Regions from separate parts of the Homo sapiens genome. Here all the other regions are linked to region 3. Evidence: fine-mapped expression QTL. A gene starts in region 3. Each other region holds a variant in brackets. All regions are shown on one strand. Distances are between the middles of the regions.

Region 1 (5,505 bases), 64 kb before region 3:
GGCATGATTGGTTAAAAACATCAGGCTGCAGCTAGAGCTTAAACTCCCTATATGATTGGTTGAAGGTTCAATCCCTTAGTTTGCAGCTATAACTCATTTTGGCTTAGGGGAAAGTTCCCTTAGGGAAGTCCCTATTGACCCAGGAAGTCCAGCCAACTTAGCCACTTAGTCCCTCAGTCCCTCCTCTCAAAAGGAAAGCCCAAGTGCCGTTGGGAAGTTGGGCAACAATCATTCTAGCTACTTCCTGCTGAGCTGGGGTGTAGAAGGGGCTCTGCAGTTGAGCCTTCCTCAGGAGGGGAGTCTTCAGTGTCATGGTGCAAGAACAGATTGGTGGGTCAGTCTAGGGGTCCTCGATAGCAGGTGCTAGTGGTGGTCATTTGGGGCTCCATCTGTAGAATCATTTGCAGTTTCATGGATTCTATTCTGGAAGAGACAAATTTTACAAGGAGGTTAAAAATGCAGGGTCCAGAGATAAGCAACATCACAATAGCCACCAAGGGTCCCAAGAAGGGGAGAAACCAGGGCATCCATTGGTTGACAATACTCCAAAGTCCTGTGTCTTGGAGCTCTTGTGCCTGGCACTGTATCTGGTCTCGAAGCTCCTTAACCTTTTTTGGTGACAATTCTGTATTGATTAACAAAATAGTAACACTCTTCTCCTAGAAAAAGACAGGTTCCACTTCTTTCAGCTGTTAATAAATTTAAGGCTTTCCAATTCTGGAGGGCTACTGCTGCTAAAGAGTTAAGCTAGCTTTGTAAGGTGACCAGTGAATCTGCAACTCGTTCCATGTCATCATTTAACTCTTGTGATAATTTGTAATATGTTGGGGTGATCAGACCCAACACCAGGCTGTGGGGGCTACGAAGTCCGGCGGAGTCAAAGGAATGAGATAAGTTAAGAGTGCAAGAAGTGGGACCAGGGGGTCAATGCTAGTATGGAGGCTGTGAAGGCCCTGAGCTCTTGAAGCCTGCACTATTTATTGGTGATCAAACAAAGAAGCAGGTGGTGAGGATGTGGGGGTTCAAAGAAAGCAGTGTATCAAGTGTGTGATCTACAGCTGTGACAGTTTAGCATTTTCTTTGAAGCATATGGAACATGTTCTGCTACTTGAGATAATGGGGAACATGTTCTTCTAGTTTAAGACACAATCGATCTATGAGCCTGGGAGGGCTAGAAACAAGGAGCCAGCAAATCTAGACACATTCCAGAGGCCACAAGGGGTTTTATGCCCTGAGCCCTGGATTCCATTCAAGCCATGAGGGGTTTTATGCCCTTGGCTTAGAGTGTGGTGCAGCAGGGCAGCCTTTCACCCTTTGGCACAGAGCTTGGTGTTCCAAAGGCCACAAGGGGTTTTAGACCCTGGACCCTGGACCCTGGACCTGTTCTAAGACTCTTTTACATTATATCAGACATGCAAGCCCTGCCTCAGCTTTTTCCCCAACACTCAGCTTTTTTCCCAACACTCAGCTTTTCCCCAACAGTAAGAGAATTGGGTGGAGGTGGTAATGCCTCCAATGCCAGTTCCTAGACCTCCTAGTATCCTAGCCCTGAAAATGAATGGCAGGATAGTCGAGGTATGCTGAGATGCTGGGTTTGACAGATCTTTAAAGGCAAATAAAAATTGCGAGTTAGGATGCAGAGGGATGCAGAAGAAAGCGTCCATAAGATCTAGGACTGTAAACCATTCTGCTTCCTCTGGTATCTGGGAGAGTAGAGTATAAGGATTAGGTACAACTGGATTGTTGGGAACAAGCCCCTCCAAATCTGGTCATAAACTGGCCCCAAAACTGGCCATAAACAAAATATCTGCAGCACTGTGACATGTTCATGATGGCAATAAAGCCCATGCTGGAAGGTTGTGGGTTTACCGGAATGAGGGCAAGGAATACCTGGCCCACCCAGGGCAGAAAACCACTTAAAGGCATTCTTAAGCCACAAACAATAGCATGAGTGATCTGTGCCTTAAGGACATGCTCCTGCTGCAGTTAACTAGCCCAACCTATTCCTTTAATTTGGCACATCCCTTCATTTCCCATAAGGGATACTTTTAGTTAATTTAATATCTGTAGAAACAATGCTGATGACTGGCTTGCTGTTAATAAATACGTGGGTAAATCTCTGTTCAGGGCTCTCAGCTCTGAAGGCTGTGAGACCCCTGATTTCCCACTTCACACCTCTATATTCTGTATGTGTGTCTTTAATTCCTCTAGTGCTGCTGGGTTAGGGTCTCCCTGACCAAGCTGGTCCTGGCACTGGATACAGGGGAACAACTGCCTCAATGATAATTCAGAGGTCTTTCACTAACCTCCACTGTCTGTTGGGTTTTTGTATGCCTAGAATAGGACTGTTGCCTGGACTGTTGCATGGCTTTACTAATCTCTGTGCTTGTAGGTCTTTGACAATCTTTTGTAACCCTTGTTGGGCTTCTGGTCAGAGGGGGTACTGCTTTGATAAGGAAAGAAAGTAGGATCCTTTAATTTAACTTGAACTGGACAAGCATTTTTTGCTTGTCCATACTGCTCTTGCTCTTCCTCTGCCCAGACTTCAGGATTAACTCCCTCCTTGAGTAGGGCAGCAAACAGGTATTCCTTCTCCTATATTCAAGTATATAATGGCCCCTGCTTTAGCTAATATGTCTCTCCCTAGTAAAGGAGTAGGGCTCTCAGGCATAATAAGAAAGGCATGTGAGAATAATAAGGTTCCCCAGTCACAATTTAGGGGGTGGGAGAAATACCTAGTGACTGAGTGTCCTAAGACCCCTTTGATGGTGAAAGACCTGGAGGATAGTTGTCTGGGACAGAAGAGTAAAACTGACAGGGCCACGCCATTGTCCAGGAGGAAGTTAGTTTCCTGGTCCTCACTGGTTAAGCTTACCTGGGGCTCTGTGATGGTGATGGCATTGGGCTGGTGCCTGCCCTGGGCACCCTCAGTCTTGTTGGACCATCTGGTTAGTGGCCTCTGGCCCAGAGGACCTTCACCCTAAGGGGCAGTGTGCCTTCCAGGGATCTCCCTGGCACAAGGGACATGGACAAGGGGGTGGCTTATTGTTGTTTGGGCAGTCCTTTTTGAAGTGACCCTGTAAGCCACACTGATAACAAGCCC[G/T]GTTAGGTGGGTTGCCTGCCCAGCCTTTCTTTCTTTCAGAGCCACTGAAGCTCGTCTGCCTGAGAGCCATGACTAAGGTGGCAGCCTTTTTCTTGTCTCGTCTGTCTCGTTCAGCCTGCTCCTCCTGATCCCTATTATAAAACAACAAATTTGCCAAATTTAATAGAGTTTCCAAATTTTGCTCGGAGCCCAGGGCAGACTTTTGAAGTTTTTTTCTAATGTCTGCAGCTGACTGAGTGATAAACTTATCCTTTAAAATTAGCTGGCCTTCAATAGAGTCAGGTGACAAAGAGGTATGTTTTCTTAATGCCTCCCTTAGCCTCTCTAAAAATGCCGTAGGGTTTTCTTCCTTTCCCTGTGTTATGGTGGACATAATTGAGTAATTCATTGGCTTTTTTCTGGTCTTTCTTAATCCCTCTAGTATACAAGTCAGTAAACGCCTGTGACTCCAGTCTCCATGCTCCGAATCGAGGTCCCAGTGGGGATCCACACTGGGAACTGCCTATTGGCCTGTGGTGAATTGTTCCCTTTCTTCTGATGTCGTTTTATCATTTACCTGGCTTAGGTACCAGAGATCCCCAAACTCCTGGGCCGCAGCTAAGGTGGCCTCTTTTTTGTTAGGAGTTAATGTTTGACCTAAAAACAACAGAATATCTCTCCATGCTAAATCAAAAGATTGTCCTAATCCCTGTAAGACGTCTACATATCCATCAGGTTATCTGAGAATTTTCCTAGGTCCAGTTTGATCTGTTTTAAGCCTGAGAGGGAAAAGGGGACATGTACTTGTGCTGAGCCAAAGTCTCCTCCTCCCACGGCTTGGAGGGGGCACAATCAAGGTCCATTGGTGCCTTTTGGTTCCTTGACTATCTTTTTGTCTGGTTCCTTTTGGGCTGATAAGGCCAAAGGAGAGTCCTTACTAGTGGGATGGGGAGCCATGGGGAGACCTGGGTATGGGGATAGGCTTTGAGGACCCCTGGTAGGATGTAAATTACATTTTTTACATAATTGTGGGTTATCCCTTAGTGAGAAAAAAAACCTGTAGATATGGCACTTCACTCCATTTGCCCTCTCGTTTACAAAAGAGATCTAGCTGTAGGATGGTATTATAGTTTACACTTCCCTCGGGTGGCCATGTCTCTCCTCTGGAAAGAGGATACTGTGGCCAGGTGGTGCTGCATAAAAATATAAGTCACTTCTTCAGCATTTGAGGGTCAAATTGGTCCCAATTATCCAGAATACACCTCAGGAGTGGCTTCACTTTTGAAGGAATGTCTCCCATCTGAAAGGAGAACATAGGAGTGCCCGCACCTCTAGTCATCCCCTAGTGAGCACTAGCCCTAGGGCATCCCTGTAGGGGTGGGTTGCCCCTACACACCTGTGGGTGTTTCTCGTAAGGTGGGACGAGAGATTTGGAAAAGAAAAAGACACAGAGACAAAGTATAGAGAAAGAAATAAGGGGACCCGGGGAACCAGCGTTCAGCATATGGAGGATCCCGCCAGCCTCTGAGTTCCCTTAGTATTTATTGATCATCTGTGGGTGTTTCTCAAAGAGGGGGATGTGTCAGGGTCACAAGACAATTGTGGGGAGAGGGTCAGCAGACAAACACGTGAACAAAGGTCTTGGCATCATAGACAATGTAAAGGATTAAGTGCTGTGCTTTTGGATATGCATACACATAAACATCTCAGTGCTTTACAAAGCAGTATTGCTGCCCGCAGGTCCCACCTCCAGCCCTAAGGCGGTTTTTCCCTATCTCAGTAGATGGAGCATACAATCGGGTTTTATACCGAGACATTCCATTGCCCAGGGACAGGCAGGAGACAGATGCCTTCCTCTTGTCTCAACTGCAAGAGGCATTCCTTCCTCTTATACTAATCCTCCTCAGCACAGACCCTTTACGGGTGTCGGGCTGGGGGACGGTCAGGTCTTTCCCTTCCCACGAGGCCATATTTCAGACTATCACATGGGGAGAAACCTTGGACAATACCTGGCTTTCCTAGGCAGAGGTCCCTGCGGCCTTCCGCAGTTTTTGTGTCCCTGGGTACTTGAGATTAGGGAGTGGTGATGACTCTTAAGGAGCATGCTGCCTTCAAGCATCTGTTTAACAAAGCACATCCTGCACCGCCCTTAATCCATTCAACCCTGAGTTGACACAGCACACGTTTCAGAGAGCACGGGGTTGGGGGTAAGGTCATAGATTAACAGAATCTCAAGGCAGAAGAATTTTTCTTAACACATAACAAAATGGAGTCTCCCATGTCTACTTCTTTCTACACAGACACAGTAACAATCTGATCTCTCTTGCTTTTCCCCACATTTCCCCCTTTTCTTTTCGACAAAACCGCCATCGTCATCATGGCCCGTTCTCGATGGTCGCTGTCTCTTCGGAGCTGTTGGGTAC
Region 2 (5,473 bases), 180 kb after region 3:
TATATATACACACACACATATATACATATATACACACACATATACATATATACACATACACACACACACACACACACACACATATATATATATACATACATACACACACCTATTTTTTTGCCTACAATGGATATATTCATCCTGGAGGAATACCTTTTTTTTTTTGAGACGAAGTCTTGCTCCATCACCCAGGCTGGAATGCAGTGGCACGATCTCAGCTCACTGCAACCTCTGCCTCCCAGGTTCAAGCGATTCTCCTGCATCAGCCTCCCAAGTAGCTGGGATTATAGGCACATGCCACCACGCCCAGCTAATTTTTTATATTTTTAGTAGAGACGGGGTTTCACCATGTTGGTCAGTCTGGTCTTGAACTCCTGACCTCAAATGATCCACCTGCCTCAGCCTCCCAAAGTGCCGGGATTACAGGTGTGAGCCACTGCACCCAGCCTTGTATTTTATATACCTGGGAGCTAAAATTTTGGAACATATTTTAAAAGTACATAAACCCAGAATTCTTCCTTTTGGCACCCATCCATTTTTACTACCCTGAACACCCTACCAAGACCATCTAAACTCATCTCCACACCCTTCCACCCTAGCCTGACAGCGAGTCAGTCAGTGCAGGCCCTGTTCTGGATGCTATGGAATATCCTGAAACCAAACATCTTGTGTAACAGTTGAAGTGAACAGGTGCTCATGTAAAAAGGTGATCTTAGAACACGTACAGAGCAGCTTTATGTGAAGCACAAATCAGTATGAGCAAACCAAGTCTATAAGTGCTGAGAGAAGGTCTAGGAAAGAACATAGAGTCAAGTGGGGTGCTTCAGAGAAGGCTTTCTATAGAAGGCTGGGAGGAAAAGCCGTGGAGTGGTTGGAGAGGTTGGGAGAGGGTGCCTCTAATAGAAGGGAAAAATTCTGAAGCCCAGATGAGCACATTTTGCTTTAGAGGCTAGATTGAAGATTAGCTTGGCTCCAGCAGTGGCAATGAGCAGGGGAGATCTAGACAGGAGGTGAAGTCCACCCGCCCTGACACATCTCTGATCTCCGCCTTCAGATGTGTCACCGGTGGTGGCCGGCCTCATCGGGGCCTCTGTGCTGGTGGTGTGTGTCTCGGTGACCGTCTTTGTCTGGTCATGCTGCCACCAGCAGGCAGAGAAGAAGCAGAAGAACCCACCATACAAGTTTATTCACATGCTCAAAGGCATCAGCATATACCCAGAGACCCTCAGCAACAAGAAGAAAATCATCAAAGTGCGGAGAGACAAAGATGGTCCTGGGAGGGAAGGTGGACGTAGGAACCTGTTGGTGGACGCAGCAGAGGCTGGCCTGCTAAGCCGAGACAAAGATCCCAGGGGGCCTAGCTCTGGATCTTGTATAGACCAATTACCCATCAAAATGGACTATGGGGAAGAACTAAGGAGCCCTATTACAAGCCTGACCCCTGGGGAGAGCAAAACCACCTCTCCATCATCTCCAGAGGAGGATGTCATGCTAGGATCCCTCACCTTCTCAGTGGACTATAACTTCCCGAAAAAAGCCCTGGTGGTGACAATCCAGGAGGCCCATGGGCTGCCAGTGATGGATGACCAGACCCAGGGATCTGACCCCTACATCAAAATGACCATCCTTCCTGACAAACGGCATCGGGTGAAGACCAGAGTGCTGCGGAAGACCCTGGACCCTGTGTTTGACGAGACCTTCACCTTCTATGGCATCCCCTACAGCCAGCTGCAGGACCTGGTGCTGCACTTCCTTGTCCTCAGCTTTGACCGCTTCTCTCGGGATGATGTCATTGGCGAGGTCATGGTGCCACTGGCAGGGGTGGACCCCAGCACAGGCAAGGTACAACTGACCAGGGACATCATCAAAAGGAATATCCAGGTGAGTAGGAAGTGTGTGTTGGGGAGCAATGGTAGGTTGGGGGAGAAAATATCTCAGGGGATAAATGGAAGTGGGAGGGGAGTGGGTTGGGTGGCAAAGAAGGGCTGTAGAGAGGAAGCTCTTGGATGTCAAGGATAAGCAGTGGTCAGAGTAAGACAGAGGGCCTGGCAGATGAGGTCTCCTCTAAGAAGCAACTTCCTGGTGAGAGAAGGTTCAATAGCTTTCACCATTTCACTTAGTGGTTGGCATCCTGATGCTGTCCAGCTTACTTGGAACAGGCTGGCCTACCATTTGTAGATCCTTCATTATATCAGGGATATGGGAGCTAATTTCCTCTCCAAAATGATGTGATCTTCCTCCAGTGAATTTATTTTTCACAGCTGAGAAGCTATGACAATAATTCAGTAATTTTTCCCTCAGCTTCCCTTTCCCAACCCTAACCTAGGGGTGTAAATGATACCATGTACATGTCTTTTTTTTTTTTTTTTTTTTTTTTGAGACAGAGTTTCACTCTTGTCGCCCAGGCTGGAGTGCAATGGCGCAATCTCAGCTCATTGCAACCCCCACCGCCCAGGTTCAAGCTATTCTCCTGCCTCAGCCTCCCGAGTAGCTGGGATTGCAAGCACCCATCACCACGCCTGGCTAATTTTTTGTATTTTTAGTAGAAACGGGGATTCACCATGTTAGCCTGGCTAGTCTTGAACTTCTATCCTCAGGTGATCCACCTGCCTCGGACTCCAAAAGTACTGGGATTACAGGCATGAGCCACTGCACCCAGCCGTCATGCACATGTCTTCTTATGACCATTTTACAATGCAATTCAATGAATTGCTTCACCCTTCTAGGCCCAAACCTTTGCCATAGACACTTCCCCTCTCTCCATTTCTCCTGTCCTCCCTCTTTGTATTAGAAGAGGGACGAGGGCCCTCCATCCTGCCTTCTCTCTCCCTCTTCCCACTGGACCGACATTGGCTCTTGAGTTGTAATTTCAGGAGCACAGTAAGTGTAGCCCCACCCAACCCCATTAGTTCATTTATTTCTTCCACAACTGGGGAGGCAGTGAAATGCTGCAGTTAAACACTTGGGCTCCAGAATTGGACTGCACGACTTTACTCTCCAGCTTACCACTTGCCAGCCGTGTGACACGGGTGAGTTACTCGACCCCTCTAAGCCTCTATTTTGTCATTTGTAAAATGGAGCTGATAATATTG[T/C]CTTCCTTACAGAGAATCAAATGAGATAATATGCCTGGCATATGATTGCCCTTGAAGAGGTTTCACTTTATTGAAGGAGAAAGACAAATATTTTTTGTAATTACTGTATAGTGAGTATGGTAGGTGCTATGAAAGAAGTTGTTGAAATTTTAAACTTAGAGTTTCATGTCTTTTTCAGGGTATAACATAAGTGGTTAAAATAGCAAGGACTTTGAAGTCAGACCTGAGTTTAAATCCAAATTCCACCAGCTAAATGACCTTGGGCAAGCTGCTTCACTTTCGCTAAGTCTCAGTTTCTTATGGGAATAGAGTAGGATGATGATTTTATATAGCTACTAGGACACAGTGAGCCTTCAATAAATTGTGACCGTTACTATTATTGTTATTCCTATTATTAGTCAAGTTTGATACCTGGGTGATGCATGTGGTTTGTAAATATTTATATTTTGTTTTGACACAGTGAAGGAAGACAAGGGAGGAATTGGTGAAGGAGGTTAGGAAAGAATTTCGAGGCCACTAGAAACAACTGCACATCTCCCAGAAAGAGCTCTGCCTGTGGGCAGATCATACTTATTTCTTGATACCTTTTTTACCTGCAAGTCCTCACTGGACTCAGTGGGTAGACAGGAGGCTCAGGACTGGATAGAAGAGGCTCCTAAGTTAGCAGGTGCAGAGTGTGCAGTGAGTACCCAGGAACAAGGTTTGCCTGCTGAAGAAGGGTACTGTGCCAAGTCTGGGTGGGGGACAGCAGGGAGCACACTTTGTGTGTGTGTATTCTTGCCTTCTCTGCTCTGTAGTAGGCACCTGTCCCCCTGCAGCCAGCCCGGTCCTGCCTTTCATTGCCTGAAGGAACTGCTACTGCCACCTGGCACACTCAGATCCATGTCACAGGGGCCAGGGAAGTCCAAGAATCTTGAAGAATATTAGACACATTTGTGATTGTGATTTAGGGTAGAGGTGGCCCTCAGGACATCTGGCCCCAAGAAGGGTTTATTGAGGTTATGTTCATCCACCTAATACAAGGGCTCCTTGGCTAGAAAATCACTCTGAAAGAGGTTCTGCTAATTATAGGAAAACTTGGTGAACGTCAGAGCATAAACAAGACACTGCCACAACATCTTGTGGTTCTCAATGCCAGGATACAATGAGACATCCCAGAGTCCAGCCCTGAAGGGGTTTTCGCATCCTCTGAGACTGGAATCAGAAGGTGTGAATAGAAATGGAAGCAGTGGCCTGTTTCATCCCCTTCTCTCCCCTCCCCTGTCCCATCTTTTTTCCTCAGGGCTCTGCCGACCCATTCTGCTGTTTCCGTATTCCCTTCACAGCAGCTCCCATCCTCTACTCCTTCCCTTGTCTACCTCTCCTTGAAGGAGGAGCCTTTCCAATACACCCTTCCCTGTGACTCCAACCTTGGTAAAGTCACCAACCAGCTGGACTCCTCCAGACAGCTATACACTTGCAGCCCAAGGCTGGGAGTAGAACATGGCTCTGTGCCAAGCTGCAGCTGGGAAGAGACTGGCAATGAAAGGGACTGATTTGGGCTGGGAACAAAACAGCCTCAAATCAAGGGCACTGGACACAGCACAGACAATGGCATTTGCTAAGCTGCCAGGGGCTCTTGGCAAGAGCCACATTTCTTTCCACTTTATTAACTCCCTTGAGGAGGGATAAGCCAGGGCTAGGATCCTGAGCAACACATGCCCTGGAGAAGGCCCGAGATAGGTTACCCAGAGCCTGTGCAGCCCCACCCTAGAGCCTTCCAGCCTCCCAGGCTTCCTAAACCCATTTTCCCAACCAGTGCCCGTAGGCAGGACTATGTTCCATCTGAGCCATGGCTGTCATCTCCCTAGTCACTCATCCACTAGGTTCCCTAGAAGTGCAGGCTGCAAATGTCTATCCCAAATCCTCCCTACCATAGCAAAGTAGGATCTCTCCTTGGTGAACGTCAGCTAGAGCTGCCCTGGACCATGCCACACTGGCTGTAAAGGGCTTTTTCCTGGTCTGGATTACATAGACCAGGAAAAAGCTACTGCACTCTAGCCTGGATGACAGAAGGAGACCCTGTCTCAAAATAAAAAATAAAAAATAAAAAATAAAAAAATAAAAGAAAATATGGCCAGGCACAGTGGCTCACCCCTGTAATACTAGCACTTTGGAAGGCCAAGGCGGGAAGCCCAGGAGTTTGAGGTTGCAGTGAGCTATTACCACAAACTGCACTCCAGACTGGGCAACAGATCATGTATGTGTATTGCAGGGAGGAAAAGGGGGATGGGATTGAATGTTAAGGTTTTGTTTTCCCATGGTTGTGATTTAGGCTAGAGGTGGCCCTCAGGACATCTGGCCTCAAGAAGGGTTTATTGAGCTTATGATGGTCCACCTAA
Region 3 (5,000 bases):
TCCCCGAGTAGCTGGGACTACAGGCGCCCGCCACCACGCCCGGCTAATTTTTTGTATTTTTAGTAGAGACGGGGTTTCATCCTGTTAGCCAGGATAGTCTCGATCTCCTGACCTCGTGATTCGATCTCCTGACCTCGTGATCCGCCCACCTCGGCCTCCCAAAGTGCTGGGATTACAGGTGTGAGCCACCGCGCCCTGCCGAAATCAGTCTTTCAAAGGATTCCTTCAGCCCAGCCAAGAAGTTCCAACATCCACAGGCACATATATTAACAATTACCAGTACCCAAAAACAGTTCTCTGGTTTTAATTCCACACTGCCTCCCTCAACTTAATACCTACCACCGTCAAAACAACTCCCCTCAGATTGCATCCAGGCTATTTACAGAGACACCTTGATGATCCTCACCTCAAGGCATGGACCATTCATTGAATGGTTATATTTGTTGAATGAGTGAAAAAGGATCCTTCCTCCCACAGATTTCAAGTTAAGCTGTCAGCACCCATGCAGCTGCTCTGGTACAAGTTAAGCTGTGAAAGCCTTCTCCCTCACGCATACAACCTTAAGTGTCAGAAATGCTCTGCTTCCTCCATAAATCCAAAATAATATAGCCATGGATATGCATTTCATACAGGTCAGACTCGGCAAGGACAGCTACGTTCCACATACATATCTGACACAATCGGTCTCCCCCAAATACAAGCCAACCAGTCTTATGTGCTCCTATCTTTCCAGCATACTCAGATTTGCCGACAAAGACTTCCTGAGGCACCATGGTATGCTGAATATACTGCTGCAGTAGTAGTGAAAATATGGGAGTTACAGTTCCAACTTTGTCACCAATTTAACATGCGGCCTTGGAGAAGTTCTCTCCTTATGCCTAAATTTCCTATTTTGTAAAATGGAAGAAAGCATCCTACCATTTTCACAGAGATTCAGTATCACAAAGAAACTGAAAGAGCTTTCTTATTGTATTGTAAACTATTACTATAAACCCGCGACAACAAATAAGGCCACCCATTCTTTACAGCTTTGTAGCAATGATTCTGTTAAAGATATTTTGGCCCTTCACATTTACACAACTCACTCTAACCAAAGGCACAAACTATTCTTAAGACCACAACTGGCTATGCCAAGTTTCTCCCCTCCCTGACCTCACAGACACATGCTGTACAGAACACTACCATTGCCGCTCTTTCCCAACAAGTAACTAGGGGCTCCCAATCCCTAAAATACACACACATATCAACCTGCAAGGAACCTCCCAACATTTATTCAAGAAATAAGCTAACTTATAAGGGGAACTCCATTACACTTACACAAATAAAGGCAAACTCTTACGGAAACACTTGCCATCCTCACATACACACACCAACACAGCCGCTACACACCAACAGACCATCTGTCTGCTAGACCAAAAACATCTCTTTCCATGTACAAACTAACCAGTGACATTTATTAAACGTACAACACTGAGATCATCCTGTCGTTCCCACATACCGTTCAACGCGGCAGGGACACCACAGACCTTGTCACACAGGTAAAATCCCCTCTCAAGATCGTGTCCTCGACCACTCTTATCCCTTAATTAAACACACACAAACTGGACTATGGGGGAGGCTCCGATCATGCCTACAAACACAAACTAACCTGTCAGGGGCACAGCCGACTCCGCCTCCACTCGCTTACTTCCCAGCCCCCTCCGGGAGTCTGCCTGTCAGGGACACCCCTTCACCCCGCCTGGAGGGACTTCCCGGTAGGCTCAGGATCCCCCTCCCTGCTCTCCCCTCCCCCATCTTCACCACTGCTCTCCCAGAGGTCCAGGTCCGGGAGATGACAGTGGCTCCCAGAAAGCCCAGGATTCAATCGCTGAGAGAGTGCTTAGGCCCGAATGCCGGCCCAAATCGTTCTACTCACCGTGTCGGAGGCCGAGAGCGATGAGAGTACAGGGAAGTGAGGAAGAGGGGGTGGCCGCCAGGCTCCTCCGCTTCCCTGGGTCCACCGCGGATCCCTCCCGCTTGTCAGGAGGCGGCCAGCGGGTAAGCCGACTGGCGGAAATGCGAGAGAGGAGAAGGGAAAGGTGGAGGGCTAAAGGGGCAAACTGAGAGGAGGCGGATCCCGCAACCGACACTGGGATCGTTTCCCCTCGCAAAGCGAACCCAAAATGGCGGCGGCAGCGGCGGCAGCAGAGTGGCCGCGGCAGCTCCTCCAGAGGGAGGGAGCTAAGGGCGCCTAGCGACACCCCCAACCTCCCACTCCTCCCTCCTCGCGTTCTTCCCCACGGTCCCCCGCTTCGCCCGACTCCGGCCATGTAGCGCGCACGTCAGCCCGCACGCGTACGAGTGTCTACGGGCTCGTCGCTGGCTGCTCCCACCAACCACCACCTTCGGCCGTCCTGCGAGCCAGCCATCCCGTACGCGCTCACCCACGGGAACCTCCTCGCCCAGTTCTCCACTCCCCCTCAGACCCTGTCAAGCCGGCTCCAGCGCAGGCCCTCACGCGTACCTTCAGCGGCGCGAGCCCAAGCCTTCTCCACCTCCTCTTCTCTCCTCCCCCTCCCTCCCCGCCCGCACGGCCACCAACCGCCGCCAAAGCAGCCGCCGCCAGCACCCCCACCCTACACTCCTCGCGCGTGCGCCTCCCACAGTCCCCACCGCGGGACTGTTCCATTCCTGGCGGCTGCAGGGGCAGGAGAGGAAGGGACCGGCAAAGCGAGTCTGGCTTGCCGTTTGACTGGAATTGCCAGGGTGGCCGGCCGAGTCCCATGACAACCTACCTCCCTGGGTTCGTCGCCGCGGCGCTGCGGCTCGCCTCCTCCTCCATGGGACCGCGGCGAGGGGATCGAGGGCGGCCTAGCGCCCCTCTGCCGGCCGGTGGTTGGAGGCCGCGGCGGCTGCGCGTTGAGTCGTTTCCTGCCGGATGACCCGACCCTTTTTTGCAGTCTCAGGACGGGCGCTTTGGAGCCGGCCCCAGGCAGCGTGTGTCGGTCGCCTAGTCTGGAGAACTAGTCCTCGACTCACGGTGAGGGAATGGACCGACACGGGTATTGTACCGCTGAGGGAAAGGAGCGGGACTCCGGACCTCCAGGAGGTAGGGAGTGAGGCCGGTAGACCGGCGCGCCTCCGGGGGGGATTCCTCCCGGGCGTTGAGTTGCCAACCTGGGACCCGAGGAAGTTCGGCGTGGTGGTGTGCTTTTTGTTGTTGTTAACCCTCCTCGGATTTCTCGAATTTCACACCACTGTCCATATGCGATGATGTTTGTTTGCCCTTGACGCACTTACTCATGGATGGTACTTCAGCCTCGTTAGACAGCCTGGTGATGGAGGATGAAGAAACCATGTGCTTCTCATTCAGTTCTGGACTCAGTTTCCCTTGTCTTCAGCAAGTTATTTTTGTTAGTTCCTTATCAAAAAGTGTACATAAAAATTAGGCAACTCCAAACATGCCTCCAGGGTTGGTGTGTGAAATAATAAGATAGGGCTGGGCGCGGTGGCTCACGCCTGTAATCCCAGCACTTTGGGAGGCCGAGGCAGGTGGATGACAAGGTGAAGAGATCGAGACAATCCTGGCCAACATGGTGAAACCCCGTCTCTACTAAAAATACAAATATTAGCCGGCCGTGGTGGCGGGCGCCTGTAGCCCCAGCTACTCGGGAGGCTGAGGCAGGAGAATTGCTTGAACCCGGGCGGCGGAAGTTGCAGTGAGCCGAGATCGCGCCACTGCACTCCAGCCTGGCGACAAAGCGAGACTCCGTCACACACACACACACACACACGAAATAATAATATATGTAAAGTGGAATTAGCTCCTAGGCATAGGGAAGGTGCAGAGTATTGCCGTGTTGTCATTTACAGTTCTGTTGATGTCGATAACGTTTGTGGGTGTAATGGGTAGTGTTCTGTCCCTCCAAGTCGTTAATAAAACAAAGCAGGCCGGGCGTCTTGTTAAATAGTTGTATCAATGACTTGATTTAGATTAATGAGGATATATTTTTCAAATTTATGCCTTTTACAAAATTTTTAAAGAGTAGGTAATGTCGGTGATAGATATAAAGAAAGGAAAAGATCTCCAGATGTGGAATCTTCTACTGGATCCTGTAACAGAAAGAAGACATTAGGCTGGGCGCAGTGGCTCACACCTGTAATCTCAGCACTTTGGGAGGCGGAGGAGGGCGCATTGCTTGAGCCTAGGAGTTCGAGACCAGCTTAGGCAACACGGTGAAACCCCATCTCTACAAAAAGACACAAAAATTAGACAGGTGTGGCACACGCTTGTAGTCTGAGCTACTTGGGAGGCTGAAGCAGGAGGATTGAGGAAGAGGTTGCAAAGTTAGCCGAGATCACGCCATCACACTGCAGCCTAGGTGACAGAGCGAGACCCTGTCTCAAAAAAAGAAAGAAGACATTAGCAGAAAAGCTGAGGAAATGCAAATAAAGTCTGCAATTTTTAAATAGTATTGTACCAGCTTTAATTTCTTAATTTTGAAAATTGTACCATGGTCATATGTATGTAACATTAAGGAAACTCTAATGAAAATTGTAAGAAAGCACTTTGTACTACCTTTGCAACTCTTCTGTAAATTTACACTTTTTTTTGTTTGTTTGCTTTGAGATAGGATCTATGTCGCCAAGGCTGGAAGGCAGTAGTGCAGTCCTGGCTCACTGCAACCTCAAGCTCCTTGGCTCAAGGGATCCTCCCACCTCAGCCATCTGAGCAACTAGGACTACAGGCACATGCCACCACATCCAGCTAATTTATTTTATTTTTTTTTTGAGACGGAGTCTCGCTCTGTCACCCAGGCTGGAGTGCAGTGGCGCGATCTCGGCTCACTGCAAGCTCCGCCTCCCGGGTTCGCGCCATTCTCCTACCTCAGCCTCCTGAGTAGCTGGGACTACAGGCACCCGCCACCACGTCCAGCTAATTTTTTGTATTTTTAGTAGAGACGGGGTTTCACCGTGTTAGCCAGGCTGGTCTCGATCTCCTGACCTCATGATCCACCTGC

The links.
Region 1: its variant is fine-mapped to the expression of DAP3 in whole blood (TOPMed, PIP 0.96).
Region 2: its variant is fine-mapped to the expression of DAP3 in tibial nerve (GTEx, PIP 0.98).

What each region holds. Positions count from the first base shown.
Region 1 is chr1:155,622,214-155,627,718 of GRCh38, forward strand. It overlaps the pseudogene LOC100419798. Among named protein-coding and RNA genes, the nearest start is that of MSTO1, 15 kb to the left of the region's middle. The variant G/T (reference allele first, on the strand shown) is at 3,104.
Region 2 is chr1:155,866,911-155,872,383 of GRCh38, forward strand. SYT11 (synaptotagmin 11) reads left to right here. Exons shown (of 4, transcript NM_152280.5): 2 at 1,055-1,881. Among named protein-coding and RNA genes, the nearest start is that of SYT11, 10 kb to the left of the region's middle. The variant T/C (reference allele first, on the strand shown) is at 3,093.
Region 3 is chr1:155,686,156-155,691,155 of GRCh38, forward strand. DAP3 (death associated protein 3) reads left to right here and starts at 2,936. Exons shown (of 13, transcript NM_004632.4): 1 at 2,936-3,019. It overlaps YY1AP1 (YY1 associated protein 1), which reads right to left and starts at 2,619. Exons shown (of 11, transcript NM_139119.3): 1 at 2,504-2,619; 2 at 1,916-2,046. It also overlaps the pseudogene LOC124904430. RefSeq lists enhancers at 2,025-2,659, 3,035-3,084 and a silencer at 2,495-2,544.